Linked DNA regions of Homo sapiens: regions 1 and 2 are each linked to region 3. Evidence: fine-mapped expression QTL. A gene starts in region 3. Each other region holds a variant in brackets. All regions are shown on one strand. Distances are between the middles of the regions.

Region 1 (10,921 bases), 30 kb after region 3:
ATTAGTGTTGGTTACTGGTTCCTTGCTTTGTCAATTTGGGGAGCTCATGATTTTCTGTTTGTGTATGTACATTTGTCTTTAAATTGAAAAATTATTTATTCCAGTCTCCTTTATCTGATATATTTTTGTTTTTATTGGATATGTTTGCTTAGCGTTTTCTTTACAACTTACCTTTTTTTTTTTTTTGTAGGTCACTGCCTCCTTTTCAGCACTAAGTGGCAACTAAGTCCAGGTTTACCTCTGTTTTAGCAGGTGTTCAGAGTGCTGCCTGTCCAGGATGGGGGAGGTCCCAAAGGGGATAATGCAGCAGAATGGGAAAGCTGTCTAGGATTTTGTGCCCAAGAGACTAACAGAACATACCTCCTACAGTGAGGTTCTACTGAACACTCTAATTTGGCAACTCCTTCAGCCAAGATACAGAGAGTTTCCCAGGCTGGGGATGCTGCTAGCCCCACCTGCCCCCTTTGTCTCTGTCATTCTTCAGGAATTTTTCTCCATTCAAGTACTTGTGCACCTTTCTGTGTGTTGAGGCAGGAACAGGTCTCCTGCCAGGAAACCCAAGATGTTGAGAAAGCTGGCTGTCCATCTTGAACTTACCTTTTCCAATGTAGTAACTGTGAATCAGGGGAAATTTCCCAAATGCCTGGTTCATGACAAATCGGGGGGAAAGCGTTATACTTATAAAAATCCGATTCTATCACCCTCTGCACAGCGTTTTTACTTCTCTGCAACCCCAGAAACTATCTCATCCTTCTATTTGGGTTCTGGGATATTGCTAGTGATAATTTCTGCACTGTATGTGTATATTTTGTTGTTTGTTTTTTATTTTCTATGAGATCGAGGGTAGTGGAGCCAGGTTGCTTCTACTCTATCATTTTGGTGACCTAAGTCATATTTTTTCTGTACAATATTAAATAAAAGTAATATTGGTAATTAATCTTGTTTTGTTCTTAACTGGGATTATTGAATTTAGCTTAGGAATATTTGGAGGAAGACTTTTGCATATATGTTAATGAATGATATTATCATCTATTTTTTCACATTACTAGTTTTATTTATTTTGGAATCACTGTTAGGCTATCTTTGTAAAATGCACTGTTGAGCTGCATTGCCAGTGTTTTAATTCTCAGAAGAATGTAAAAATAGGAACTATGTTTTTCGTCAATATTAGATAGAACTCACTTATTAAGCAAGCTGCCACTGATGTTTTCTTTCTAGTGATTTTTTAACTTCTAATTTAATATCATTTAGATTTTATATTAATTCTGATGTTGATATTTCTAATTTATAATTTTTTAGAAATGAATCCAGCCAATTTAAAATTTTAATTAACTGGCATATATTATTAGTAATATGTTATTATAACTTTAAACTTTGATGCATCTGTAATTCTGCCAATTGTTCATTCTTAATCTTTCTTATTTTTGCCCCTCTCTCTCCTTTATTTTTTATTAGTCTTGTCAGGAGTTTATTTTTATTTTTAGGAACCAACATTTTTATTAGTATATCATTTTTGTCATATATTTATTTTTATTGTATTAATTTCTGCTCCCAGATTTTTTCTTACACTTTCTTTTTTTGCCCTAACATTATTTTTCTAATTTTTAAACTTGAATGCTTAGTTAATTAATTTTATACTTTTTAAATAATATTAAATTTAAGGCTATAAACTTCTAAAAAGCACTTTTTCCCAAATATTTTGAAATTATACTTTTTGTTATTGTTCAGATATAGATGTTTTCTACTTTTCCTATGATACTTCTGAGAGTAAGTTGTATGGAAGTATTTTCTTTAAATATCAAACATATGGACATGTGAAATTTATCATTTATTTATTTCTAATTTATTTATATCACTAGTAGAAGCAGAGGTCTATATTATATTAATATTATTAATTCTATTAACTGTATTGACACTTGTTTTATGGCCAAGCATTTGTTTAATTCCACTGTGCTTGAAATCAATCTTTATTCCATGTGCCTCCAGTAGGTGGACCTTGTTAATTATTCTACAAATAATTTATATATATACTTATGATTTATTTGCCTGGTGTTTTTATTCCTAAGGGGAGAGATTTCAAATGTCTTACTCTGATAGTGGGCGTGTTAATTTTCCTTACAGTGCTTTTACGTGATTACTGTGCAGCATGGAAAGCCACAGACCTCCTTCCACTGCATGGCAGAAAGCAGAGCAGAACACACAAACCGGGCAGGCTGGCTCCCTGGGAGAAGAGCACAGGAAAGAACTGTGCTACATATGCCCAGTTCCCCCTTCCAGTCCCACCAATTGGAGTAGACGGCTGGTTCTCAGACTTTAACTTGCATGCATAACATCCTGAAGTTATTAAAACACCAATTACTAGACCCCACTTTCAAAGTATCTAATTTAGTTGATCTGAAATAGACCTTCTCATTAAAATAAAAATCTTTTTCTATTGCTAAAGTTTTTACCTGAGAAGATTCCAGGTGACTTGATCCCCATTTATCTCACACCTAGTCAATGTTTGGAGAAAGCTTAAAAAGACTGTATGATTTGTTCACCACGTTAGCCAAAGAAATGACGAACGTACCCATAAAATATTGGCATTACGTTTAGACCTTAATAAACATAGACAAAAAATACCTTCCCAATAATTACTCTGCAGGCTCATATAAATCGTGTTTAAAAGGATTTTCTCTCTCTAGCCTACGTTTAAGTAGAAGGTCATTCAAGTGAAAGGTCATATGTAGGCTGACTTGTGGGATCATATATGTTCTAAAAACCCACAGTTGTCAGGGATGGTAAGGAGGGTGAAAACTCAGTCAACATGATTAGATCCTCTTGGTTTTTAAATGAAAGTTAAATCTTTTGGATTAAGTTTAGAATCTACCTACTAACTAATGTTGAAAAGACATTTATCTATTTACCTTCTGTGGGAGATTTAATGAGAAAATAGACAAAGGACATCCAACTATAAATCGTATGTTTGTGTAGTCAGGGATCCTTGTATAATCAAGGATCACAAAATTAAGCGACATCATGGGATGGTTTGTGTAGTATGAAACCCAAACTTACTTCTGGAAAGGAAAATTGAGACTGCAGGAGTCTGAGAGAAGAAAGGGTGGCTGGACAAGACTTGTGAACCTCCACAGCCAGCCATGTTGTCTACAGATATGAGTTACTCTATGGGAAGATAGGGCCCTAGAAGAAGTCTATGACTCATTGTATCTGCTTTCCCGCCTACATGTGTTGCATGGTGCTTGGTGCCAGAGGCTTTCTACTTCAGATAAAATGGAAAAAAAAAAGAAGCCAAAAGGTATACTGGAAAGCGTTAGAAAACGTTGGTGCTATCCCATTCTCAGTCTGTTTCTAAGTTGCCATGTAACCTTAATTAATTAAGTTATTCCCTACCTCTTGATTTCAGTTTTATGTTTTTGTAAAGACAGAGGGGTTTAGACCAGATGACTTCTTAAGCACCGTTTAAATCAGAAGTTCAATGATTCTCAGTGACTTCCTGGTGGAATTCACCTAGCTGCAAATGGTGTTTGCTCAAAGCAAGTCTTCAAAAGTTGTCTTGGCTTACCCCAACAGTTGAACCTATCTACCCCATACCACAAAGGAAAAGTTGCTTTTACCTAGGAAAGAAAAAAAAAATCAAGGATTTGATTTCTACTATTTTGCTGTTGTTGTTTTTCTCCACAACATTAATTTTCAAGGTTTGACAATATTAAAATTGGTTTGCCTTTATTTAGGATCCACCAAATGTCAGAAAAGAGAATATAGTCCGTATCTGAGCTGGATGCTCAGAGAAAATTTACCTGAGGGTATATTGCCATAGAAAAACCTCAAATTGGACAACTTATCCACATTTAATAGGTGGGGACCCCAGAACATTCTGTGATCTTAGTCAAATTTACTAAATTGAGAGGGAGATAATGCTGCTGTATGCTACTCCACACACATTGTTCTCTACACATATCTTTTCTCTTAAAATAAGCTAAAATAAATACAAAGTCATCCCTGCATTTGGAAAGAAAGCATTTCAACATCATTTTTCAAAAACAGGAAACCCAAAACTTACGCTATCACTAAAAAGAAATTTTAAAAGGTTGTCCAGAGAGTTTTTATTTCAAAAATAAGTTTTCTTTTTGTATCTTCAATAAGCTATGGCTATGTTATCCTCAGACAGGGAATCTCCTAGTAGGATCCTACAGTTCCACGCTTGGTCTTCAGAGAACCTTCAGAGAAGTAGCAACTGGGTGCCCAGTTAGCATTCTAAAGTCTAAGGCATGAGAAGAGATCACAATACACTTCTACACTTCCATGAGACTTTCTTTTGTTTTGCTCATTCACTTCTCACCAATCCATGCACTCCTTCCCACCACTTTTCATGACCTCCCATCATCACAAAAGTACATAGAACAAAATGAAAAAAAGTCTGTTTCTTGGTGTTAGTCAGTATGTTGCTGCACATACTGGTGTGTGTGTGTGTGTGTGTGTGTGTGTGGTCTGTCTGTGTGTGTATGTGAAGAAGAGAAAAAGGTGGGGGTGGCGGTGGGGAGAGAGAGAGTGGGTTGGCTCCTTAAAACAAAATTGTTAAATGCCGGGGTTTTTTTCCCACCCACCTTGCCAGAAAACAGGAGAGACAGAAAAGTATCCATCTAGTCCCTAAAGAAATGTCCCATCTGTCAAAGTCAGAACTGCAGGGTTACATGAAGAATCAATGAACAGACAAAGTACATTTTAAAGAAGGATTCCTAAGGGAGACATGCATCAGGAATTCTCAAAGGGAATGAGGAGAGAGAGGAATTGGTAAGCTAAGGCCCCTATATTGTTGGTCTAGAAGGGCTGTAGCGCAACAGAAAAAGCATTCTATTTCTAAATTGACTTTGTAAACTTGTTTTGCCACTAACTCAAAATGAACATTGGGCTTAACCATTTCTCCTTTCTTTACTTCAACTTCCCCTTCTCTATATAAATGTTGTATAAAGCCCCTCACCACCCTGGTAGTCTGTGGATCTCTAAAGCCATTGAAAAATGTTTCTAGGGTGGATATGGAGTTGGGTGGTCTATATCAATGTCCCTGGAGTTTTCTTTCCATATTCTAATAGTCCTTATCTGGGAAAGATCAAAGCCTTTACCTAGTTCTCTTTTTTAGATACTCTAATCTTTTCTGTACCACCCCTGCCCATTACCTGATGGTTTTGATGACATTAGAATTTACAACATCCTCCTCTGCATCTTTTCTACCCCAAGACACTCCCCTACTTA[T/C]ATTTCATGTTCCTGGAAATGCTGACCTCCCAGGGGCTCCTTGCTATATGTTCTCTGGAGTTGCTAAGTGTGTAAAGTTTTTTGTAAGTGCTCCTCTGGGGTAGGAAGTTGGACACAGAGAAGTAAAGCAGCCCTACTCTCTTTCAAATGGCTTTTCTGCAACCCTCACTGGCTCTAGAATCCAATCCCAGGGACACTGCCTCTTCTGGGACTCTAGAAGTTCTGCAAGTCCCTCATAGCACTTTTTTTTTTTTTTTTTTTTTTTTTTGAAACGGAGTCTTGCTCTGTCACCCAGGCTGGAGTGCAGTGGAGCGATCTCGGCTCACTGCAACCTCTGCCTTCCAGGTTCAAGCGATTCTCCTGCCTCAGCCTCCCAAGTAGCTGGGACAACAGGCATGTGCCACCACACCCAGCTAATTTTTTGTATTTTTTAGTAGAGACAGGGTTTCACCATTTTAGCCAAGATGGTCTCGCTCTCCTGACCTCGTGATCCACCCGCCTTGGCCTCCCCGTCATAGCTTTTCATGAGAAGAGACAATCCAACTTGAATACATGAAGAATCACATCTTTAGCACCCCAGAGGTGAGTTTCATCTTAAAAGCTTTTTTTGCAAGGAGATTTCTCATCCATCCCTACTAACCTCACCACATCACCATATTATCACAGCACAGGCACCACTATCACTTTTGCGCTTACCATCTCTACCTTTGTTACTCTCACCACTGTCCCTCCCTTTGCCATGTCAGCTATCTTTAGCCATTGTTCCAAATGATTGATGTTGAATACCTAATACACTTGTCTAAGTCTCCATCACCAGTATTATTACCATTACTTACATTATCACTACCATTATTATTACCCAGGCATCTTCATGAGACTAATCTACTTTTTCATTATTACTTTTACTTATATCCATATCCTCAATATGTTCATCAACATCCTAATCTTGACATCTGAACTCTTATCTCAGCTGTGTGTTCTCTGTGGGCATGTACTTAGATGGATATGGAGTCCAGATGAATAATGGAATTACAGCATTTATCTATCAGAAGTAAGGTATTTGAATCATTCATAGCCCCAAATGTACTTTTATTTTTCAGAATCAGGTGGAAAGAAAGCAGTTGCTATATTAAATTTAAGATACGGAGGTAACCATAAAAAGATTAACAAGTAAATCATATTAAACGGAAGAAAAATACTAAGTGTTCTGAGTTCAAATTGGAAAAGCTTTCCTGTAGGAGACGGAAAGTTTCTGAGCCAAAGGAAAGGAAGATATTTGTTTCTGAGAGTACTAATGTGACTTTGGGATTGAAAGAGTCTCTCAAATTTTTGGACAATATGAGGGTCTCATTCAACCTTAATCAGCATTTAGCTTATGTCCCACTTACTCTGAAATACCTAACCTTTCACAAAGATGGATAGTTGAAACTATCCTTCACTAAATTACTGCATCTCCCACAGTCTCAAGCACCAACAGATCTTTTGTTTTCATTTTTATTTCATGGATATATAGATTAGCCATCTATCCCAATTCTTCAAATGAATAATTGTGCTGTACTCAAAGTGGCCACTTTAATACTCATTTTTATTCCTCCCTATATCACATCACATTGGTGTTCCTACGTTCCTCTTTTCCTCTTGTGAGCCAGACTCTGAGACAGACTTTCTGCATCATTTGTATTGTCTAACTGTATACCTGTATGGCTTGGCATTGACTGAATAAATTACAATGCCCATGCATGATCCCTCAGAAGGCTATCAACATGACAAATACCTGAGCATAAGAATTGTAAACATTACCTAGAATCAGTTAGTGTAGATATGCGTACTAAACAATCAAGGCTTCCAAGTTTAGTTCTTGCCTAGTCAAGAACATTGTTTCTTCTCTTTTATGTCACCACTTGTCAGTAAAGAGTGCTTACTTGGCATTTATTCTGTATCAGAAATAGAGTGAGGGAAAATGACAAGTTCTGGTATTACTGTGCAATGGGTTCACTGTCCCATGAGCTTAGAAGCCAATACTGTGACACCAGTTTTTAAGAAAGAAGAAGCCTTATTTCAAGGTTGACCAGCAATGAGGCAGGAGGCAATGTTCAAATCTGTCTCCCCTAACTGAGGTCTGGGGACAGGTTTTATAGGCAGAGAGCAATTAAGAGGGAGATAGGAAAATGCAACAAAGCGTTATCTGATTGGTTCCTGAGAAGAGATTATGCCAGGTCCTTGACTTTTAGGATTGTGCTGCAACAAAACAGGTCTCCTTTCCTTTTTAATTTGATCACCATCCTTTGGTCTGAATACTTAGGTTCTGCATGTGGTTTACTTTTTTGTTCTGGTTGGCTCCAGGGTCACAAATCTGGCACACTTGGTTCATCTGGGCACACTTGGGTTACATACAACCTGAGGGTCCATTGCAACTAAAAAACAAGTCATCATTTTGTTGTATTTTGTTATTGACAAAGTTAAACCAGATTGAACTGGTTCTGTGGTTACACTGATATCTTCATCAAGCAATTCATTATTTGAGGAGAAAGGTGAGATCTAAAATTATTTGTTAAAAGCTTAAGTGATAAAAGTAGTATTCAGCATGTTCAAATTTTCATAGTATCATTGCTACTATTTGGAAAAACAGCATATGCTTACTAAAATTTAGAAATAAATAGAGAAATAATTTTTGAAGTAATGGGATTATAAGTAATTTAAATTTTTATTTACCTAAACATTTAATGTCCTATATTTATATGTAATACATTATTTTTAAAATGTGCTGTAAATGTTAGGAAAAAAATGATATGAAATGCAACTAACATAATGTGAGAAATAGGGAAATTCACAATAATTCATTTATCTATTTATTTAATACATTTTTGAAACAGCTTTTATGTCCCAGACTTTATTCTAGGAACTGGAGAAAATGGGATGCGTATAACACTGTTGCTTCCCTTAAGATATTTATTATATAGAGTGGGAGGAGACAGATCCTCAAATCACCTGATTATTTTTTAAAATATAAGTTTTTTAAACATGTAAGAAAAAATTTCAACTTCACACATAAGATGAATTTTTGAACCTTTTAGAGATATTATTTATTGAAGCAAATAAACTTTTAAAACAACTATGTAAATGAAGTGATACATCAAGGTCACATGCCCTTGTTTGCCCAGTACAACTGTGGTTTATATCTGTTGTCACTGGATACATTGATAGTATTTCATTTTGTTCTCTGATGTACTTGAGTTTGAATGTCCTGTATGACAGAATGTCAGCCTTGATGCTAGTACCAAGTGAATGGTCTGATTATGCTGCCTTTCAGACGTGACTGCTTCTTACTGTCTATGTTGCTAGAGTCAATATCCAATTGTCACCATGGGAGAAGTGGCCAAAAGTTGGACCTCACCTTGGGCACTTACCCCAATATGTCACACTAAGGCACTACTTCTCAAACTTTTATTTTCATATCATAGCGCTTATAAAAGTGATGGTATCTGTAGGACACACTGAGGTGAACAGAAAGGCCACTTACTGCTTGAGGCAACCAGTCCAAGGACTTCAATTCCCTTAGGTCCTATCTGACCATTCATAGGGTGTGTGTTAGGGGCAAGGACTCAGTAACTCAGCACATCTGTTATTTATATCTGTTGAGAAGCTCTGCGCTAAAGATGACCTGAACTTTATGTTCTAAAGGAAATACCCAAGGAGGTCTCAAGAGAAAAAAAAGAATATAGAATAGAGTACAGAATGAAAGGCAAGGGGAGTTTGCAGCTATAAATGGATCTTAAAAAAATACCTTCTGGTGGAGTTTCAAGAGGGGAACTCAATCTCTATCACACCCATTTGACTCTTAAGAGTTTGTTCATTCATTCATTTGTTCAAATATGAGTGGATACCATGCATTGTAGTACAAATTAATAGTGAGATATAAGCCACTTTGAGTTGTTAGATGACTGCTTATGTCTTCACTACAGGATGGTAAGTCCCCCATGTTCACTGCACAGTATGCACCCCACAGATATTAGTAATTATCAAGAATTGCTATAACAGTTTTAGTAATTATTATTACTATAATTACCTATTAATTAATGTGATCTAAGCCATTTCAATTTAAGCCATCTTCTAGTGCTGCCACCACAGGGAAAAAAGAGTTTCTGTTGGGCCCATAATAGTTCCTGCAAAAAGAGTAGTCTGAGTGAAGTGAGGTGCAGAAGGAGAGAAAGAAAAGGAGCCCAAAAGCAGTAGACTCAGACTGTCAGCAGAATAGAGTTTTGCACCATGTATTTGGGAAACAGCATAGACTTCTTGAAAGCAGGGACTACTCAGTTTATGACAAGATAAATTTGGACCCTTAGGTCAAAAGAAGATGCCTCATTTGGAGAGTTACCAAGTCTATTGTAATAACAATGTGAGATAGCTGTAAAACTAAGCATTATCAAAGAAATAAATCCCCACTGAAGACATTTATGTGGAAAACTCTGAAGTAACAATGATTAATATTTACATGCTTAACGTTCTTTTATTGTCCCCATTTTGCATGTAAGGGAACTGAGGTGGAGGGAATTTAAGTGTATTGCATATGATCACACAGCAAATAAATGATAGAATTGACTTTTGAACACAGGCAGAGAGCCTTCAAAGACCGTGGTGTAAGCACTATACTGTCCTGATTCTGGTATGCTGAGACTAACTTGCTTATGAAATACTTAGTATGTGTTATTTAACTTTAGAACACTTTGATGTAGTTTTTTTTTTAAAGGAAAACAAATCTGGCATTAGAGAGAGCTTATGTTTTTTGCCCAAAATCATAGAGGCAAAAATGGCAACACCTGAATTTGTACCAACACCTTTCCATCTCTGCTCTGCAAATTCAGATCTTACACATCTGGACCTAGTTCAGGTCCTGCTTTCCTTAAGAAGTGCTATAGGTGCCTGTAATCCCAGCTACTTGGGAGGCTGAGGCAGGAGAATGGCTTGAACTCGGGAGGCAGTGGTTGCAGTGAGCTGAGATCGCGCCATTGCACTCCAGCCTGGGGGACAAGAGCAAGACGTCATCTCAAAAAAAAAAAAAAAAAAAAAAGTACTGTAAGCATAGAATCAAAACTCCCTAAGCTGAGAGGAATGTGAGCACTCATTCATTGCCAGCCTTTCATTTTACAGACAGAGAGAATGAGGCTGAGGAGGGTAACTCAGTCAGCTGAAGTGGATTTAGGGTTGAATCTGTCTGTCTTTACTGCAAGTTCAATAATCTTTATAATTTTATTACGTAAATATTGGGATGTTCTTCCTTCTTCAGAGGGATATTATAAAGATTAAATTTTTAAAAACATGAAGGCAGCTGTAACTATTTCTGGCATAGTACAGACATACATAAAATAAAGCAGTAAGATCTGTAGGAATGAGGAAAATGGAAAGTATTCAAGATTAGGCAATACTTAGTCTCTTCCAAGATCTGGTCCTATTTTCTCACTAATTTATCTGACCATACTCTAGCAGGTACTTGGCCCCCAGTTCAGACACCATCAAGGAATGGGAGATTACTCTGCTCAGCAGAGGAAGCAATAGAGGAGCTGGAGAGAAAAGAAGCGTGATCAGAACTGCAGGTTTTTTCTCCATCAAACTACATTTGGTCACATAATAACCCAGAATCCCTGGATGCCACAAATAGATAAGCATTCTGCTC
Region 2 (10,921 bases), 25 kb before region 3:
CACATGTATAAGAAGGTTTTACAATCATTTAAATATCTTTAAAACTTAACGTACTTATTTTGTTTTTGTTTTTACAGCTTAACTTACTTTTCAAGCAAAAGTAATAACATTTATAAATCATACTTATAGTCTTAGAAAAACAAGACCTATAAATTAAAATGATAGACACAAAACTTAGTACTGTTGTTATTCATATTAAAAATCATTAAAGAGATACTTCACTTTGAAAATACATGCCAAAATGTCTTTAAATAATTTCGTTAAAAAAAGAAAAAGTGCGTGGTAATTTTAAAAAACTGATTTGTTAGCATTTTAAACTTAAGGAGATGATGAGATTTCTTTGAAGAGGTGTGTGTGAACTCCATTAGCTCCCAGAGGCATTGAACATCTTTTGAGAACAGAGGATTTTCTTGGTGGCGTTTTTCATATCTTTGTTCCTCAGACTATAGATTACTGGGTTGAAAAGTAGGGCAAGGGCCGGGCGCGGTGGCTCACGCCTGTAATCCCAGCACTTTGGGAGGCCGAGGCGGGCGGATCACGAGGTCAGGAGATCGAGACCATCCCGGCTAAAACGGTGAAACCCCGTCTCTACTAAAAATACAAAAAATTAGCCGGGCGTAGTGGCGCGCGCCTGTAGTCCCAGCTACTTGGGAGGCTGAGGCAGGAGAATGGCGTGAACCCGGGAGGCGGAGCTTGCAGTGAGCCGAGATCCCGCCACTGCACTCCAGCCTGGGCGACAGAGCGAGACTCCGTCTCAAAAAAAAAAAAAAAAAAAAAAAAAGGAAAAGTAGGGCAAGGACAGCAAACATCAGTGCAATGGCCTTGTCCAGTAATGGTGGGAATGTGACAGAGAAGCGCAGATACATGAGTGACACACTGCCAAAAAACAGCAAGAAAATAGCAATGTGGGCTGCACATGTGGAGAAAGCCTTCTGACGGCTCTCACCAGAGGGAATCCTCAGGATCACCGTGATGATTCTTAAATAGAAAAGGGTGATGACAGAGACAGAGGTCAGAATGGAAATAGCACGGATCACATCTTCAACCAGAATTATTTACGTATCTGTGCAGGCCAACTGCAGCACAGGTTCAAAGTCACAAAAGAGTTGATGAATTTGGTTGGCGCCACAGAATGGAAGAGTGGAAATGCACACAATCTCTGGCAGTAACATGAGGAAGCCAAAAATGCAAGAGCCAGTGGAGAGCTGGATGCACAGTCAAGGGGACATAGTGATTGCATAGCGAAGGGGGTTGCAGATGGCTACACACCTGTCAATGGCCATCACTGTGAGGACTAGGGCTTCTGTGACCCCGAGTGAGTGGAAGAAGTACATCTGCAGGAGGCAACCTATGAAAGAGATGGTTTTCTGTTCACTGAGAAGGTTGGAGAGCATCTTGGGGATAGTCACGGTGGTGTACCAAATCTCCAGGAAGGAGAAGACACTGATAAAACTGTACATAGGATTATGGAGATGGGGGTCCGGTTGGACAGCAAAGAAAATCATGAAATTTCCAACAAGAATGAATATATAAATAAAGAGCATAGGAATGAAGAATAAGAGGCTGCCATTCTTAGATTGAGGAAAATCAGAGAAATAAAACTCAGTCACCATTGTCTGATTCTCTGGATCCATATTTTCAGCGGTTTCACTTGTTGGCTCATAAAACACAGTCAACATTCTAAGTACATGCAAAGAACAAATAAAAACCTTCTTTTCAAGCAACTAAACAGCCTTGAAATTAGGCTGGTTAAATAAAATATACTATGTGAGTCATTTTGCAACATATAAAGTTATCCTGTCAAATTTAGTAATTATAATAACTTATGTTGTCAATTATTCTGTTGGATAAGCTAACAGTATTGCTAGTTAGACATATAAATTGGTACAAACTCCCCTGAATGGCAATTTGGCAATTTATATTGAGAGTTTAAGACTGTTTAGAGTTTAAGCCTTTCACTATGTAGTCTAGGGGAAATATTTCAGATATTAAAAAAGAAATATATGACAATATTAGCTAGAACATTTATTATAACAGTAAATTAGGAACAATTTAAGTAAGTAGACATTTTCATTTTTTTGAGATGAAGTGTTGGGGACACAGAAGAATGGGTCATGACAAAATGATACCCTCTGTGGATAAGAATAAACTCATTTTTAAGTGCGCATGTTTGAAACTAAAGTATGATTAGCAGCTTCCCTTAGTCTGACTCATTATTAACAATTGAATGAAAAGAAAAAATCCAAACATTCCACCAAATATTATTTACTTTAAGACACAAGAGGCTAATCTCATGTGACATATATGGGTATACAAATTAATCTAATCTACACTCTAAAGGGGGTGTATTAGGGTTCTCTAGAGGGACGGAACTAATAGGAGATATATATATAGTTAAAGGGAAGCTTATTAAATATTAACTCACACTATTACAAGGTCCCACAATAGGCTGTCTGCAAGCTGAGGAGCAAGCAAAGCCAGTTCGAGTCCCAAAACTGAAGAACTTGGAGTCTGATGTTTGAGGGCAGGAAGGGTCCAGCAAAGGAGAAAGATGTAGGCTAGGAGCCCAGGTTAGTCTAGTCTTCTCATGTTTTTCTGCCTACTTTATATTCTAGCCACGTTGGCAGCTGATTAGATGGTGCCCACCCAGATTAAGGGTGAGTCTGCCTTTCCCAGCACGCTGACTCAAAAGTTAATCTCCTTTGGCAACATCCTCACAGACACACCCAGGATCAATACTTTGCATCCTTCAATCCAATCAAGTTGACACTCAGTATTAACTATCACAGGGAGTTAGTTAATAGTTGAAGTGAGCTAATCTAGAAATTACATTCTAGGTGTAATTTGCAACATTTGAAATACTTTAATCAATAGTCTACCTCAAGAGGCAGTTTTGACAAGGGCTTCAAATATTCTTATCTGTATCCACACTGTAGAGTTTATTAAATAATGTAAAGCAGGTTTTGTCAATTTCAGCATTATTGACATTTTGAAACAGACAATTCATTGCTCAGAGAGAAGGCAAGGCTGTTCGTGCATTATAGAATGTCTAGCAGCCACCCCTGGTCTCACCTATAAGGTGTCAGTAGCATAGACCCCTCCCTCGTCATGACTACCAAAATCATCCTAGAAATCACCAAATGTCCCTGCAGGGAAGAAGTAGAAGAAAATTTGTGCCAGTTAAGAACCACTGGCATACAGAAATTTTTTTTAATGAAAAACCAGGTGATCAAGATACGTTGATTGGCTGAAAGTATTCCTAACCTCTGGCTTGCAGGGATATAAAACAGGATGAGCTAGGCAGCCTATAGAGCTTGGAGAGGTGCAATAGGCACATGATCCATTCATTCCTGTGTTCCCTCCTTAAAAGGGTATTTATCACCTAATCTCACTAGAAAGTTAGCTTTTCTACTGCAGAGAATTTTATTACATTTTATCTTTGATAGAAACCTTCATTTATTATACTAACCAGAAAGCATAAGGAAAAAGAGTTGAGACTTCCATGAGCTTCCAAGAAAAGGCCTAATAGTAGTATGTTTTTGCCTGTTTGCTAATAAACGTTTGTTTGCATGGCAGAATTCTGACTCTTCACTTGGTACTGAGGTGAAGATGGGACCTCTAAATGGAGAAAGCTACTGATATCTACCAAAAAAGTCAGACAACTCTGAACTGCCAATGGATACAATAAATAGATAAAATTATTTGGAAACCGTAATGCCGGAGGCTATACACAAGTAAGAACCCAGCTTGGCATATGGCAACCACAATTTTTTTTCTCTTGCTTTTTATACATACAGCAAAATAGTAAGTCTATGTTGAAACAGGAAAATATGAGGTGAAAATTCCCTTGTTTTTCTTTAAGAAAACTTTTACATAAGAAATGGAGGCTCATAAAAAATAATTTATACTCTAGCAATTTTTACCTTAATTACTCTTATCTGGGCTTATTGTTTCCAGACTTGTCTTACTACATCTCACTTTCACATAGCTACTGAAATAATCTTTCCTAAATGCAAAGCTGTCAATCCTCTGTCTGAAAACCTTATACTGGCTCTCTGTAGGGTTCCAAATCAAACCTGAGCCTTTAAGCAGAACAGATAATATGGCTGTATATGAGATTGTAAAATTATTTTGTCATCCCAATATCTTATGACTGTATTATCCCCAACAGGCTTTCCTAGTATGATAGAAAATGATACCCGTGTAATTGTTCTGTGTTCTGCTTACAGAGGCAGTAGGGAGACAAACAGGGAAAGAAGCATTAAGCTCTATGTCCAGTACCGTTTGGAATTAGAAAATTGAAATCTGGAAATTTTTGTTAAAAAGGTAGGTCTTTAGGAACTTGAGTCTTTAAGAAGGAAAGAGGATGCCTATAGGAAGGCAATTTGATATAGAGTCTTGGGAGCAAAGTTATACCTAATAGGACTCTCCTATTTTCTGTAGGAATGGATACCCCAGAATCTCAACCAGAAGCTCCACTAGTTGTCCTGACATTCCTTTATTCTTAAGAGCCTGTCCTGATGCCACTAAATACAATACAAACCTAGATTAGAATTTAGCTCAGAAAATAGTAGAGTTGTGAAAGAGTCATAGAGCTAGTGGGCCAGACACAATTTGACAGATTTAGTCCAGGTGTTTGTTATCTTACGGCAATCTCTAATTGTAGGACAAACACTCACCAAAGCCCTCCATCCCTAAGTTATGGTCCTTTCCTCTACCTCATGTGTTGTCACAATCTCAACAAAATTTCCACAAGTCCTTCTTTAAAGTCCAATAGGAAATAATATGGTTCTGTGAAAATTGTCCCCCAATATCTAGTAAACAAAGTCATTCACTCATATCTCAAAGTAGAAAGTCCACCCATCAGTCCATAGCTACCTCTTCCAGAAACCAACAGAGCCACCTCCTCTTTTCCAAATGTCTCCATCTTCATTGCTCTGCAGCCCAATAAGTAGGAAGGTTGTAACCACAGCCACACCTCTAAGCATCACAGGGAATTGCTAAGTGGGAGAAAGGCTTTCTTCTAAAGGGCTCTTTCCTGGGGGGCTTAGGGAAAAGCAACTCTATGCCCCATGAGACTAATTAGGAAAACACTTGCTGACACACTCCCCTTTCATGAGGTCAACACACCTATGGGAAGCTAGGTTTTTCAGTCAGGCTAGAAATCAGATGAAAAGAGTACTTGGCTTTCCATTCTGTCCAAGGGGTAAAAGAATAGTTTAAATTACAAAATCTGCTGAGAAAGGGAAAGGATAAGGAACAAAAGGAATGAAACTAACGCAATGTGGTTCAAAGGCAGGAGAATTTTCTCTACTCTTTGGAGCAGTTTAGTGATCACACAGCACAACCCTGAAGTGTATTGCAGAAGATTCAGCCAGCTGCCATCCAGCACAGCTTAGTAGAATTTCTTCAGAAGGATCCAGGGATCACAGGGCCATTTGCAGTAGTGGCAGTAATGAGGGGGCTCTCATGAGATTTCATGGGTTTCAGGGGTTCCAGCAGCAGATATCCCAAGTGTATGGAGTCAGGAAAGGATTGAAGGGCAACCTTTCCTGCTACATGAAAGCTGTATTGATGAGCACACATGAGCTAGACCTTGGACAGACCTGAGGAAAAAAAAAAAAAGGGCCCTCATATAGAGGACAGGAAATAGAAGCAGAAGGATACTTTTCTAATTCTTTTTTTCCTACTTTTTAAAAACTGAAATTGGACTTAATATTAACCTCCAGGTGGGTAAAGGCAGAAGAAATAGACATATACAACACATAAGATTTTTTTCTTCTATCACAAAAAGAGATATAAAACAATCACGAAGTGTTAAATGTTTAGTGGAACAGTAGCAGTGGATATAGAAATGCAACAGAATTTGAAAGCATATTTGAAATTAGAAAAAAAAAACTTATGAGACACAGGCATATATGGTGCGAAAAATGAGTCAGAGCAGAGGTGACTTTCGACTCTGAATGATTAGATTTTTAATAGGCGATTTTTAAGGCAGATCCTTGAGTGGAGGCAGGGGGACTGATTGAGGCCATGA[C/G]TTCGAGGCTGCAGTGCACCGTGATCGCCCCTGTAAGCAGCCACTGCACTTCAACCGGAGCAATAGAGTGAGATTCTGTCTCTAAAAAATAAAAATAAAAAACAATAACAATAAATAAAGACAGTCCCTCAATAAGCATTCGATTAAGGAATATGTAGCTAAATAAACGAATAATTAAATGAATCGGCGAATAGCTAAAGAATCAGATAGTGACTCAAAGATAGTCTAATTTGTAGCCACACTGATGTTTACTTTTTGACCCTGATTTTATCCAGTCTTACCACTTAAGATAAATTCCTCCTCTTACGCTTTGAACCTATTTATCTCATCTCATGCAGAGACACTGTTCCTTCAGTTGTCTCACTTACCTATGTATCCTCCAAATTTTCCTCTTTTTAGTCTGCTTATATAGCTTATGAATATGCTCAAACATATTAAAGTATATACTCTTTCTCATTTTCATTGTTGCTCTAAGTCTGCCATACTGCCTTTCTTCTTCCCGATCTTATTTTCCTAAAAGCATAGTTTACTCTTTTATCAGTATTTCTGTCTCCACCTTTTCACTTCTTGTTCACATGAACCTACAACCCCACTTAAGAGATAGAATATTATGAATAACTTTGAAGACCACTACACTTTCCTCCCCAATCCAGTTCTTTATTGCCATATTACATATTACCATTCACCTGAATTTTGTGTTTATTATTCTATTTAGCACATGTGTGCACACTCAAAAACAATATACTGTTTAGTTCTGTTTTACTCTATGTAAATAGAATGGTATTTTAGGCATTACTTTATAATTTGCTTATTCACTCAACATATGTTTTGAGAATCATTCACATCAATGTATCTAGCTGCAACTTTAAAAGAAAATCCCTGCTGTCTTGTATAAATGGAGCACAATTTAATCATTCATTAGCCTTCAACGTTTTGTATTCTGGAATATTTGCATCTTCAACTTCACTAGATGCTGCCAAATTGTTTTTCAGAATCTGTCTACCACCAACAATAAATGCATTTTTATTGTTGCACATCTTTTCTAATGTTCTGGGTGGTCATATTTTTGCTACTCAGTTGTTGTGTAAACAATATGCTATTGCTTTGATTTGCAGTTGAATGTTGTATGTGTGTATGTGTGAGTGTGTGTGTGTGTGTGTGTGTACTCCTCATTTGGTTGTTTATCTTTTTCTTATTACTTTGTAGAAGCTTTTTGTATATTCTAAATAAAAATAATCAGTTATAAACGTTATTACAAATACAGACTCCTAGTGTATATCTTGTTGTTTTTCTTTTTAATGATGCTATTTGATGAAACGAACTATTAAATAGTTTTATTCATCAGTCTTTAAATTTATGGTTTATATTTATATGGAATTGAAAAATTTTAACTAAAGTTCCAATACAATTGATTAAACAATGCACCTTTTTCCACAGACCTGTTGTGCTGGCTATGTTCATCTTTTCCCCAGTGGTCTGCTATACCTACTCTCACGTATGTTAAAATCCCATACTATATTAGTCTATTTCTTTGCTTCCATTGGCTGTTTACTCCCACTGCTATTTTATTACAAATATTGCTTCATAATAACTTTTACTAAATAGACAAGTGGCACCATTTTAATCTCCTCCTTTGAAATGTCTTCTTCTTGGCCCTCATTCTTACATATCCCACTCCTCTCTACTCAAAATGAGATTTTGATTGAAATTGGGTTGAAATGATTGACTTGTAGATGATTGGCATGTTTATGTAACTGAGACATTCTATTCATTCATACAGCATATGGATCAATTTATTTATGTTTTTGATATAGTCCAATACAGTTTTATAAAGTGCTATGTTTAGATGTAACATATCTTTTACAGTTTTTTATTTTTGTTGATACTTCAAATGGCATCTTTTTATTACACTTTTTGTCAACTGTTACATATAATAATGCAATGTTAAATATATCCATTTGTATCTATGCACTTGCTGAACTTTGTGTTATAATTTGTCTTTATTTTCATTTGGAAATTTTATATCATCTTTAACTAATTTCATTCTTTCTTCTTTATGGTCTTAATGCTGTGTGTTTCTTTTTCTTATTTTCAAAGTTTTACTTTTTATGATGGACACCCATTTTTAAATATATATCTCTTTATATAGGTATATATACATACCTATGTATATAATTTTTAATGGAGATTAAGATATATTATATAATATATTTAAATTTTATTTGCTGAGTGTTACAAATAATAATAGAAAAATCATGCTGCTGTAAAGACACATGCACACGTATGTTTACTGCAGCACTATTCACAATAGCAAAGACTTGCAACCAAGCCAAATGTCCAACAATGATAGACTGGATTAAGAAAATGTGGCACATATACACCATGGAATACTATGCAGCCATAAAAAATGATGACGTTGTGCACATGTACCCTAAAACTTAAAGTATATAAAAAAAAAAGAAAAAGCTAGTCGAATTCCCTATTTCACCCAGTGATTGTTTCTTTGTTCCTGTAATTCTCTCATTTGATTTCTGCAATACATCATTGCCTTGATTCTCTCTTCGTTTCCTGAACTCTTCAGGATAAGACAATAAGATAGACCTAGGTTCAAATTCTTACTCTGCCACCTGCTTAGCTACCTGACTACAGAGAAAATACATGGTCATTAAACTTTAGTTTTCTCATCTGTTAAGTGGAAATAATAATGACTAATTTACAGAACTATGAAAGGATAAAATGAGATGAAATATAAAAATGCCCTAGCAGATTTTGTCACATATTTAATAAATGAAAGTTATTTACTATTAATACCATTTTTCTCTCACCTACCTATTGTAATCCTCCAGTCTCTTCTCATATTCCCTAAATTCTTTTTCAATTATCTAGTGCATTCTCATAGTTCAATTATAATCTCTACTTAAATAACAGACATCTGTGTCCACAGATGTGTCCAAGAAGAGACTTGTCATCTCTTCTGAAATCCAATTCTTCATCATTAATGGCAAATAGACATTTCTACTTAAAAGTTCTCTCACATTTTCAAGATAAAATATCTATAACTCATCTTCTTATAATTGCCCCTACAAGCTTTTGCTTTAGCTGGTCCTATATCTGTCGATAGTGCCATCTAACAGACGAACTCAACCTTATGAATCTGTTACCTTTAATGTTCCTTTTACCATCATAGCACAAATATAATCAGGTGTCGGGTCCTATTGATTCTTTATTCACAATTACTCCCATCTCTTCTGTCCTTTAATTCCATTATTACAGTTCTATTTTAGGCCTTTACTCCAGATTATTGCAGAATAGGCTCTGATGTCTGATAGGTACTCAGTAAATGTGAGTTGAATAAATAATACTTCCTACTTCCATAATTTCTCTACTTAAATGCATTCTACATATCATCAACGCAATTTTGTGCATTAATTCCAACTCAAAAATTATCTCATAACTTTCCGTTATGTGAAAAATATGCTTTCAAAATCCCAATGTCTGACATTCAAAGACCTCCACACTCTGCCAAACCCTACCTTCCAGTTCTGTCTCTTCCCTATTACATTCCACATGCCATATGATTGAAGCCAGGCGTATGTGCTAAATAATCTATAAACATGGATCTTGTATTATCACCTCAAAATCCTAGTTGATCGTCTTCTATTAAACATACACTACCTGAGTTTAGGTAAGTCTTAGGGCTATGCATTAAAGGTTAAAATATAAATTAATATTGATAGATAATCATCAAATTTCTTAGAATCTAGACTTATAACTAGATAATTTTAACAACAGGTGTAGGCACTAGATGCTTTACAAGCACAAAAAAGAGACTCCCTGGCCGGGGATGGTGGCTCACGTCTGTAATCCCAGCACTTTGGGAGGCCGAGGCAGGCAGATCACCTGAGGTTAGGAGTTCAAGACCGGCCTGGACAATGTGATAAAACCCCGTCTCTACTAAAAATCCAAAAATTAGCTGGGCACTGTAAGTTCCCGCTCTGGTCTGAGGGACTGGTACCCCAGCCCCCAGTTTTCAGGCCCTCCCTGGCTTGAATGTGGGACCTTACCAGGGACCTGCCCCCTTCTGCCCAGGAATCTGTCTGCTTCTGTTGCCATTCATGGCCCCCAGGCTGTAGGTGTGAAGGGGGGCCTGCATGCCAGCTCTGAGATGCCCTCTGTGCCCCCTGGGCTTCCCTCCTATGCTTCTTGGTGCCCAAAGTCTGGAGAGGGAGAAGGCATCAAGGGGCTGGTGTATCAGCACTGCTTGTAGCATGTGCATACCTGGACAGACTACAATAGGACTGGGTCTCAGCCCTTACTTTGCTCCTAGATTGGAGTGGACATTGACAGCAGGGAGAAGCCAGGCAGCAGGAGCAGGCACTTTCAAACCTGCAAGAGAAGGGGGACCTTCCCAGGACCCCAGGAGCGCAGAGGTGCCTGGGTCCGCAGCCGTGGTTTGGGTGGCTACACTTGCATGGAGGAGTGGGAGGCCATGATCCACAGTCATGACTTGGGTGGCTGTAGCCCGAACCTCCTGGGTGGGGCTTCTGCCAGTTCCATGGAGCAGGTGGCCCAGATCTACAGCCTGGGTTTGGGTGGCTGCAGCTGCGCCTGGAGGATGGGGCTCTCACCTTCTCCTTGGCCCCAAGAGCACAAGGATGCCTGGGTCTGCAACAGTGGCTTGCAGCGACACCCTGGGGTGCTCCCACCCCAACTCGGAAGGCGCAGGGCTCCCCCTTGTCCCTGGTTCCTGCCCTGGCCACACTGCTACCGTCAATACTGGCAATATATTCCTAAGTCAGGGAATATATACTTGAGACTAATCAGTAGAGATATAATTGAAAGGTAATGCTAGTGTTTAACTAGATTTGAATTCAGAGGATTAAG
Region 3 (10,921 bases):
GAAATTTAGGTATTTCTAATCCAAGGTATATATTAACATTTATACATATTGTTCATCTAAGGTAAAAATCATCATTTATACTGATAATATATTGATACCGTACTGGACCAAATATATATAATTTGAATATTATTTTCTAATTTCTCATTTTAATTTGTTTTCTTCTTCAACTTTCTGGCTACCAAAGAATCAATTGTTTTCCCTTCTGCTCCCTCCTATTCCTTTATGAGAACTCAGGTCTGCTAGCATCTTTCAGGGGCATGTAGGTCAGAATTTAGACCTCTTTTGGACACTGGTGAGAGCTCCAGTCAAAAATAAGAAGGTTAGAGTAAATAAAAAAGCCAAAGAAAGACAGGAGGCAAATCTATCTTTCTGCATTTCAACTTCAGACTGTGGCCACTTCATCAGTTCTTCCTGCCATTTCCCCCTCTATCAACTTCAAATGCTCTTTTCTGGTTTATTGCTTCTGTAGATATTAAATATACATGCTCTACTGTGTTGAGGTCAATGTAACAATAATTGATTATTTTCAGTACTCTGGGCATTATACTTAGAACAGGGACTAAACAAATAAAATGTGGCACCTGATGTTAACAAACTAATATTGTAATACAGAGTATAGAGAAACAACTAACTATTATACAGCTCTTTCATGGAATACTCTATCAATGTAAAAACATGCTATTATTCTCATCTACTAAACAAACAAAAAAGCAAGAGCCTTAAATTCTTTCTCTTTACTCATCCCACAGCCACTGCTCTATTTCTTTCTATGTCCCTAAAAGAAAACTCTTCCAAGAGTCGGCTATACGCATTGCCTTTAATGCCTCTCTTTAAGTTTCTTCTTAAACCCACTCTAATTAGATTTATACTACCACCACTCCATTAAAACCTCCTTTCTCATAGACATTAATTATCTAAGATTTCCTGGATCCAATGGTCATTTCTCATTCCTCAGCTTACTTGGACTATCTGTTTCTTGACAGTATTGATTTATCCAGCCTGTTCACACACTTCCTTGACTTGATTCTCGGGGTACTATACTTTTGGTTACTTTCTATCTTATTAGTCATTCCTTCTCATTCTCCAACTTTAGTTTCTCCTCCATGCCCCATCCTTTTAATGTCACAGTGCCCATGGTCAGTGTTTAATCTTTTTTTTTTCTCTTCTATATAAACTCAACTCCTCTGCTCTATACCATCCAATACCAGAGCTTTAAACACTATAAATGTGTTGAAGACATCTAAATCCATATCTCAGGCGATATTTTTCTCTGCTACTCCAGACTCATATATTTCACTGCCTACTCACATCTCCTCTTGGGAGTCGAAGAGCCATCTCAAACTGAACTCCTGGGGTCTCTACCCCTAGTCTTCCCCATCACAAATGATGGCAATTGCAATCTTTCAACTGACAAGCTAAACTCCTGCAGTCATCCTTGTTTCTATCTTTCTCTCATATATCCAGGAACTGACTATGTTTGACCACCTCGGTCCAAGTCACTTTTATCTCTCCCCTCTTACTGTAATTGACTCCTAACAGATCTCCCTACTTGCATTTGTTCACTTGTAGCCTCATCTCAACACACCAGAGTGATCCTGTTAAATTCTAAATTAGGTTCTGCGTTTCCATCGATCAAATGTGTTCAGTGACATATCATTTAAAACCTTTGCTGTAGCTCTTTCCTTGTTCTAGAATCTCTTTCACCATTTGGATAGCTCTTTCATTTATTTCATCTTTGCTCAAATTTCACCAGCTCAACTACCTGGGCCACCCTATATAACTGCAGTGTGCCTCCATCCTTACATCCATATTCTGTACTGCTATTGCCTTTCTCTACTTAATTTTTAACTTTTTTTCCAGAGGACTTGTCATGTTCTAACCTGTAAAATGTACTTATTTCTTATTCCTATTGTTTATTGGTTCTCTCCTCTTTGATTATAAGTTCCTTAAGGGCAAAGATTTTTTTCTTTTCTATTTTGTTTACTGGTGTATGTCAAGTGCCTAGAGCCATGTCTGAAATATAGTTACAACTCAATAAATATTTATGTAATTAATATGCAAATCTATTAAGATAACTGCTAATTTGCATATGCAGTAGGAGTTACAAGCCATGGGCTGGATATGGAGATAAATCAGGAAAATTTCATAGAACACATAATTTATTATTATTATTATTATTGGAGACAGCATCTCACTCTATCACCCAGCCTGGAGTGCAGTGGCAGGATCTCTGCTCACTGTAGCCTTGACCTCCTGGGCTCAAGCAATCCTCCCACCTCCACCCCACAAGTAGCTGGGACTACAAACGTGCACCACCACGCCTGGCTAATTTTTGTGTTTTTGGTAGAGATGGGGTTTAGCCATATTGCCCAGGCTGGTCTTGAACTCCTGGGCTCAAGTGATCCACCTGCTTTGGCCTCTAAAAGTGCTGGGATTACAGGCATAAGTCACCATGCTTTGCCAGAAGATATAATTTTTATTTGAAGTGAAGAAACTGTCAGAATTTTTTAGATGGAAAAATGAAATAAAAAGTATTTGAAGCAAATGGAACTGCCTGTGCAAAGGCAGAGAGTTATGAAAGACACCGAGTCTTCTCCTTCTGCCCTCCGGTCTTCTTATCACTTCTTCCCTCTCCAGGATCCTGAAATTCATCCAAACTAACTTTGTTTACTCTGATTTTTCTTGGCATTTTTCTAAACCTAGGGAGCATGTCCATCCCATATACAAAAGCCTTTCTCAATCCAAGACTTAATATAGGATGTTTCTCTACTTAGATTCCAGAGAACTACTTCCGGGCCAAACTTTTATATGGGTGATTTTGCTTCAGAATAATTACTTTATTATCCAAAATTTCTTTGTCTTAGTTTTTCTCACCGCATATCCATGTCTATCCACTGCCCAATTCTGCCTTCTGTTTTCTTCAAGTCTTGAATGCATACCTGCCTTCTATAAAGGATTATCCCTAAATTTCTACTTCTTCTCAGACCCTTGTTTTCTAGATGTTCTATATTCCTTCCCTTCTAAATATAAATAAAAGGTTCTATTCTAGAGCTGCCTCTTTCCTTTTCTGGCCTCCAGTCCCACTCACAGATGAGTTGTCTAGACTGTGAGCCCTTAACTAAATTTTCAGATCTACATGGATGGCTGGTCAGAAGATTGAATATGAGAAGCCAGTATTTTGTCGTCTCCTTTCTCAGAAGGTAGAGTTTCCACATAACTCCAAAGACTTATTATCACACTATACATTGTATCATCACTCATTAATGACCTGCTGTTGTTCACTCCCTCCATACTCTGCCTAAGCAATCAAAGTCATCAGGATCCGATCAAGTATTATTATTTTCCACGGAAAACTAGCACCCCCAACTCCCTCATCTTCCAAGTTCACAGTTCTCAGAGGTTTGGACCATTTCCTTCTCTTTTTCACACCCCCTTTAAGATGGCAAAAAATACTGATGATTTTCCCTTTTTAAAAAATTTATTTTATTATTTCTAATTATGATTGTAACTGCTAGTACTGATAAACCTTAATTTAGTGTTGAGAGAAGCTTTAGGAACTATCACTTTCCAGTGGCCCCCATAATTTTGGATTTCACTGGATTGTTGGAATATCTGAAATGTATTATATATTTCCAACAGCTCATAAAAAGAAAAAACCTTTAAATATCACAAAAAGGAAGGCTAAAATAGAAGGATAAATCATGTGTATCAAACTTCATATTTGTACTTATGTTTCTAATTTTGATTCAGCCCAGCAAAAACTCATATCTTCTCACTCATAAAGGAATCCATATCGCCACAAATGGGCATCAACCCTCTGCCTGGATTTACAGCACTGGAAGCTTCCTGACCCATAAGACAGTTCTCTCCATTTTTGAAATGTTTTAGTTTACAACTGTCCTTTCCAATGACCAGAAACCTGGCTTTCACCATTATTCTTTGTTTTGCTCTGTGAAACAACCCTATTGCTCTGGTCCAGAGTCATGTGTTCAAACATTCTTTTCATCACCATTATAGCAATTTCAATGTTTGCCAAGTGGGTTTCTGTATTTAGCCCAGACTCCTTTGTTTGCAGTGTACCCTCACTAAAAATATGCTTTATCTTTTGTCAATCTGAAGACACTTGAATCATTTTCTAGCTCAAGTCTGTCATTTTTTTCCCTGACCATCTAAGTTAAATACTGTTCTTTCACACTTCTAAATTCTCAGTAGTACTTTCTCACTGTCCCTCCAATTATATCCTGTAATGCACTGCAATTATTTTCCAGGCATATGTCTTATCACTCCAAGGCAACTCTCTGTGAGCTTTTTGAAATTAATGAGGAAACTTCATACCATGTCCTACCTCCTAGAGTACTTAGCACAATGCCTGATATATCCGAGTTATGGTGGGTAATGAAAAAGAGGGCAATTGAGATGACTTGTGCAGCTCTTTAGCTCATCAGTTACTCATCTACTCCTATTCCTGATATTGGAATCAGGGCTCTCATAAAACCTACCACATATACAAATTTACATTTATCTTACTTAGGTCCATTGAAATCATAGTTTATTCCCCTAATTCTAGAAAGCTTTTAGAATATATGCCTTGCATTCTTTTCTTCAGATACCACAGCTGCATTATTCATAGTTCATAATTGTTTAGGCATAGGGCCAAAGATCTGGGGGTAAGAAGGGAGATGCAATTTTAGAGATTATCACACTCAACGTCTTCATTTAAAAAACGAAACAAACAAACAAACAACAAAAACTGGGATCCAGAAAGGGGAGAAGACTTGTTCCAGTTTACACAGTTAGTTAAAAATATAGCCAATTTACTAATTTTGAAGCCAGACTCTTCACTATAGCATTTGAAAAGCAGAATATCTGTTTTTAAAAATAGTTTCTGTGTTTCAATTATGTGTTTTATGGACCCTGATTATTCAAAAACCTCTCCATATTTCTGAATCCTCTAGGTCTCTTAGTGATCAGACTAAGAAGGAATGTGAAGATGAAAATGCCTGCTTGATAAAGTCTTACCTAGAGATTGTTGGTGGGGAGTGCTCTGCTAGAGCTTGACTCTGGAAGCCCAGCCACTGCTCGGAGTCCGAAGTTTGAAGAGAACTTCCTGTATACTTCCTATGTCTCATTTGCAGTATTATACCCAGCCATTCCCGGGGCCTGGAGGGGTTGAAGTTTATCACTTTGATGGAACCTGTGGGAATAAGTTAAACCATAAAACAAATTCTTCTCCCATAAAACCTGGATTCTTGATAGGGACCTCATAGAGGCAGAAGCCCATGGGCCTTCTGAGCAGACCTCCTGGGGTCACTAAAGTGCTCTCTCAGGAAGGGAACTGACATACAGCAAGTTCATTAGCCAGTAGTCCTTCATTACCTATTAGTTACTACAACAATAACTACCAGTCCAAGTTGAGATAGAACATGTCTCAAGGCAATTACTTCCTTTAGTAAATAACAATAACTGGTGTGAAAACTAGGTTCAAATGGGTTCCTGTACTGCATGACTTGGGAGTAAGCATACAACTTTCAATTATGATAGGATCTTTATAAAATTTGACTGACCTTCTTTGACCCTGAAAGGGTGAGGACAGGGAGACACTGGGGACATAAATATCATCAAGACCGACTCCTAATCTTGTCTGTTGCTCATATTTATAGCCGTTATATGTTGTCTTACACACTGCAGTCTCCTCTCTACTCTAGTGTTATCTGCTCCGTAAAGAGTGCTGCTTCAGAATCTTGGATACAATCCCAGCCATTCTTCCAAATACTTATGAGACATTAGGCACCTCACTGAGCCATGGTTGGCAATATTGCCAGAAGGGTGGATTTTGAATACTCTTGCCACAAAATAAAAATGATAAGTACTATATGTGAGGTGATAAATATGTTAATTAGCCTAATTTGATCATTCTACTCTGCATACATGTATCAAAACATCACATATATAATTATTTGTCAGATAAAAAATTTAAAAAGTATAAGGAAGATTTACTTTCCTCAGATAAAATTAATAATCAAATGTGATAATGTAAAAAAAAGTACTTACAAACTATAATATGAACTATGAGAAGAATTAAATAATTTTTGTCACTTTCTCCATCCCACCCACACTTTCAATATTCTTCATCAAAGTTTATATTTTTCTATCTCCTAATTTATTTCTGGAAGATTTTTTTTTTTCAAACTGAGTTGCCAGTATTTAATATTTTGTTTGTGGTAAATAGATATTTAACTAATAACTTAATTTTTGAGTCAAAGTATTATTTTGTTTTTTGACTAGTATACGTAGAGTTTAAGTAATAATTTTATTTACTTAATGACTAGAGGTTTATTCAGGTTTTCTAAATCCCTATAAGGCAATTAAGAGTTAAATACCCACTACCTTTTAAATTAAATTTTCCACATCTGTCAGTTTCATTTCAATTACTTCTTTTCTGTGAACTAGAATATCCTCTATTCCTAAAATATATCCATCAATTCTGCTACCCTCCCCTCCAAATGATATTCTGTCTCTATATGTGTTGGGGTAAATGTTTAACAACTGACTCCTCTAACAAAGATTCTCAATTTCATTGAACTCTAGTTCTCTTTTTGACTAAACCTCAGCCTTGGCTTACAAAATCTATAGACTGTCAGCAAAAATGATTTCATCCACCCTCCCCATCTTCCCTCCCCCACCACATGTATTAAAAGACTTAAACAAACACTAACATAGTTTCTAAGAACTCAAGGCCATAGTCTATCCTAGCACCTCTTTAAGTGCCTGCCTGAGAAAATTCAAGGCTACCAAAATAATTTATGTCTATGTGTGTGTATGTGTGTGTGTTTTTGTGTGTGTATATATATTTGTATATTTGTATATTACTGATTAAATCTGTCCTTACCACTTTAGTGCCTGCATTGTTTAGCTTTGAGATAGCCTGCCATTTTTAAAAAGCTCCTGATTTATAACATTTGCTGATTGGCATAGTGCTAATACTCCCACTGTATCTGATTCCAAGCTATTGGTTCCACAGAATTTCTAATAAGTTGTCAATCATTTCCCAAAAACTATGAGCAGACTTCAGCACGTAACTGCCTGTCTTTTTTATGGTATCACATTTCTTGAAACTGCAGCTCCATTGACTTCCTCAGTACTCACTAACCTCTCTCCCTCTTGCAATGTCTTTTACCGCCACTGTTTACAGAAAATGACTGTATATAGCAAAAATAGTAGCAATGTACTGTGTGTTTATTTTACAAAAATATATGATAAAATAGTGCGGATGACAGCAGGGAGGATTTGGAGAAAAGGACATACATATATATGCAAAGGTTCTCTACCTAGTTCATGAACCTGCTGAGATAAAACACACAACAAATCAAGAAAAGCAGATTTGTTACTCATAGACATGCAGCAATGAGAAACAGAAGCCTGGGGTTCATCACAAGCCCATTCCCACAGCTCAGGAAAGCTGCCCAGGCTGAATGAACTCTCACTACACATGCCCCACATTGTACCACAGCGGAGGGACCCAAAAAGCACTAGTCTTTGGAAAACAGTTAGACAGCTAATTATAAACATACATTTATCGTGTGACCTAGCAATCCTATACTTATGCATTTTCCCAAATGACATGAAAATTTATGTTTACGCATAACCATATCATGTTAAAAATGAATATTATCTAGGGATAGCTTACATGCCCACCAAAGTTTGTGAGTGAAAAAAAAAAATACAGATCCAGAAAATTAACCTAGTATGATGCACAGTAGCTAAGCAAGGACTAGTTACCAGTATTATCCAAGGAAATTCAAAAGGCAGATGTGAGACAAGTTGAGGTGGGATGTGCAGAAAACTGGTGAGTACAAATAGGGAAGACCGATGCATTCTATAGAACAGTGGGTTTCAGTAATGATTAGAATCATTATGTCATTGTTAAAGGCCAAATATATTATTGACCAGGTGTGGGTAAAATTCATCACATGTTTCATTCATTACGATTGCATTGAATACTCATCCTATTTAGGTGCTGTGTTAGTTTCTGGACACACAACAAATAAAAAATCTGAAATAATTTGAGACCAAATCTAGTTTATAGATACTTGTAGGAAAGAATGACAAACTATATCTATGTATATATACATAAATGTCCACAAACACATAAATTGCCATACATATTTTGAAGAGAAGCAAAACATACTTCAGAGATAAAAATGAGTGACATAAATTAGACTGAGTGTTCAGAAGTCCTCTCAAAGCTAGCATCACTGGAAATTGATATTTGAACAGAAAATCACACAATTAGGAGGAGTGAACCAAATGAAATGTTGGGGAAAAAACGGAGTGAAGATCCTGAAGCCAGAAAAATCCATAATGTATTTGAAGACCTGAAAGAGTAATCATGTAGCTAGGAAAGAGGGAGCTGAGGGAGTAGAGGTATGAATCTATGTTGAAGAGGAAGGCAGGGAAGAATTCCGTTTATAGCCTTATAAAGTATGGTGAGGCTTTGAATTTTATCTTAAGGGCAATTGAGAATTTCTCATGTTTTTATAAAATGGTATATACAATTCAGATTTCAAATACATTACTTTATATTTTATGTGGAAAATATATTAGAATAGAATGAGAGTAGGAGAAAGGAGCATGGGTAGAATATTATTACATTAATCCAATTGAGAGATGTTGGTAATTTACACCAGGGTAGAAACACTAAAGAGTATAAGAAATAAATTGATTTAAGAATATATTTTGTGAAAAGATTGTTGGCATACATTAATAATTGATTGGAATTATGGTTGTAAGAAAAGGAAGCAAAATAGAATATTTAAAATTTTCTAGAAGAAACACAAGGAAACAAAAGCATCAAGCTTTCATGGTTAGAAATTTTAAGAAATCAATTTTGACATGTTAAGTTTTAAATTATTGACAAGTCCAATCCAGGCAGTGTTGATAAGTAGGAAGTTGAATATATAAATCTAAATCTCAGAGAAAAATTGTGGTTTGGAGATAAAAATTTAAGAGGCCTTGTGATAGAGATCATATTTAAATCCATAAGAATAACTCCGAGTATCTAGGGAGATAGCACGGCAGGACAACGAAGACTGGGAAAGACTCACAAGAAAGATAAGAAAATTGGGAGGTAATGATGTCATGAGAGTTAGGGAGAGTTAAGGAGTAAAAAGTTAGGAGAATTGAGGCATAAAAACTGGTCATGTGTGTCAAGAGTTCAGGAGAGAGGAAGGAAAAGAAGTTTCTCATGGATTTGGCAGCATTGAGGTCAATAATGGCCTTCACAAAATATTAGTTGGAAGGTCTGAGCCAAAATAAGATTGGAATGGGTTGAGAAGTGGATATGAAGTAAAGAAGAGGAAATATGGTGTGTTGAGAAGTTTGATTGGAAAAAGGAACAGAGAAATCGATCTCTAGCTGGATGGAAATGTGTGGACCTAGGAAATATACATGCTTTTTTTTAAAAAAAGAAGTATGTAGATACTAAAATATTCTTAAATGCTGACATAAGTGATCGAGTAAAAAATAGAAATAAAGATGTAGAAAATGAGAAAATCATAAAGAAATGAAGTCTTTGAAGAGGTGAAAGGAAATGAAATTCAGAGCATGTGTGATGATGGGAAGATTACTCAAGGAACTTTTATGAATTGAACATTGAGGTGAGAAAGGACATGGGAAGAAAGTCAAAGATGAGCAAGACTAGCTTTATCTCCCTTCTGGAAGATGGTCCTCTTGATAGCTTTAATGATTTCCTTGTTACGAAGACTGTAGATAATTGGATTGACCATTGGTGTTAGTACGGAGTAAACTATAGCAAGTGTTCGGTCAAGGGTCAGGGAATAGCTCTTCTTTAGCCGCACATACATGAAGATGATGCTCCCAAAGAAGATGAGGACCACAGCAAGATGTGAGGCACAGGTAGAAAAGGCCTTCTTTCTTCCTGATGCTGTTTTTATCTTCAGCACAGCCCCAATGATCCTTGCATAAGAAATCATGATAAAGAAGAAAGTGATAAGAATTATGAAAGCATTAATGGCAAAGTCCACCAGAATGTTAGCAGATGTGTCCTTGCAGGCCAAGCTCAGCAAAGGTGGAAAGTCACAGAAAATGTGTTGGATTTCATTGTAAGCACAAAATGGGAGCTGGGAGGCAAGGATGACCTCAGAAATGGGACACAGGAAGCCACAAGTCCAACAAGCAGCAGCCATCTTGGCACAGAGTGTGGTGGTCATAATTATAGGGTAGTGGAGGGGCCGACAAATGGCCAGGTATCTATCATAGGCCATGGCTGTAAGAAGGTAGCATTCAGACGCTCCCAAGGAGTGGAAGAAGTAGGTCTGAAGGAGGCATCCTGCAAAAGAAATGGTTTTCTTCTCACTGAGAATATTAGACAACATCTTAGGGATAGTGGTAGCTGTATACCACAACTCCAAGAAGGAAAGAACACTGACAAAGTGGTACATAGGTGTGTGCAGAGCTGCATCCAGTCGGATGACTGAGAAGATGAGCATGTTACCACAGATGGTGAACAGGTATGCCAATAGCAGCAGGACAAAAAGCCAGCCCCTGACATAGCCCACACTGGCAAAGCCAAGGAACACAAATTCAGCCAGGCTTGAATGGTTGTATTGATCCATGGGAGGCTGAGGTAAAGAAGGAAAGAAGAAAACATTGGATTGAGATGACTGCTGAATCCATGCCAAAACTTCATTTCTCTCTCTCTCTTTTTAACTTAAAAGTAGCACTGAAATTACTACTGTTGCCCTCACTACTATTACTATTACTGTAAAAATATTAATAGCTAACTCTTATTAGCACTTACTATTCATCATTTTTACAAGTGTCTTGCATTCAATATTTACTTAATTTTTATACTTCAATGAGATAAGCACCATTGTTCTGCCTATTTTGCAAATAAGAA

The links. PIP is the estimated chance that this variant, and not a neighbour inherited with it, causes the effect.
Region 1: its variant is fine-mapped to the expression of OR6N1 in whole blood (INTERVAL, PIP above 0.99). The same link has a PIP of 0.9 or more in neutrophils.
Region 2: its variant is fine-mapped to the expression of OR6N1 in whole blood (TOPMed, PIP above 0.99).

What each region holds. Positions count from the first base shown.
Region 1 is chr1:158,796,708-158,807,628 of GRCh38, forward strand. It overlaps a transcript of OR6N1 not described here. Among named protein-coding and RNA genes, the nearest start is that of OR6N2, 21 kb to the left of the region's middle. The variant T/C (reference allele first, on the strand shown) is at 5,251.
Region 2 is chr1:158,741,782-158,752,702 of GRCh38, forward strand. It overlaps the pseudogene OR6K5P. Among named protein-coding and RNA genes, the nearest start is that of OR6K6, 7.5 kb to the right of the region's middle. The variant C/G (reference allele first, on the strand shown) is at 6,038.
Region 3 is chr1:158,766,999-158,777,919 of GRCh38, forward strand. OR6N1 (olfactory receptor family 6 subfamily N member 1) reads right to left here and starts at 5,197. Exons shown (of 2, transcript NM_001005185.2): 1 at 5,023-5,197. OR6N2 (olfactory receptor family 6 subfamily N member 2) reads right to left here. Exons shown (of 2, transcript NM_001005278.2): 2 at 7,224-10,643. The coding sequence starts at 10,637. The coding sequence ends at 9,684.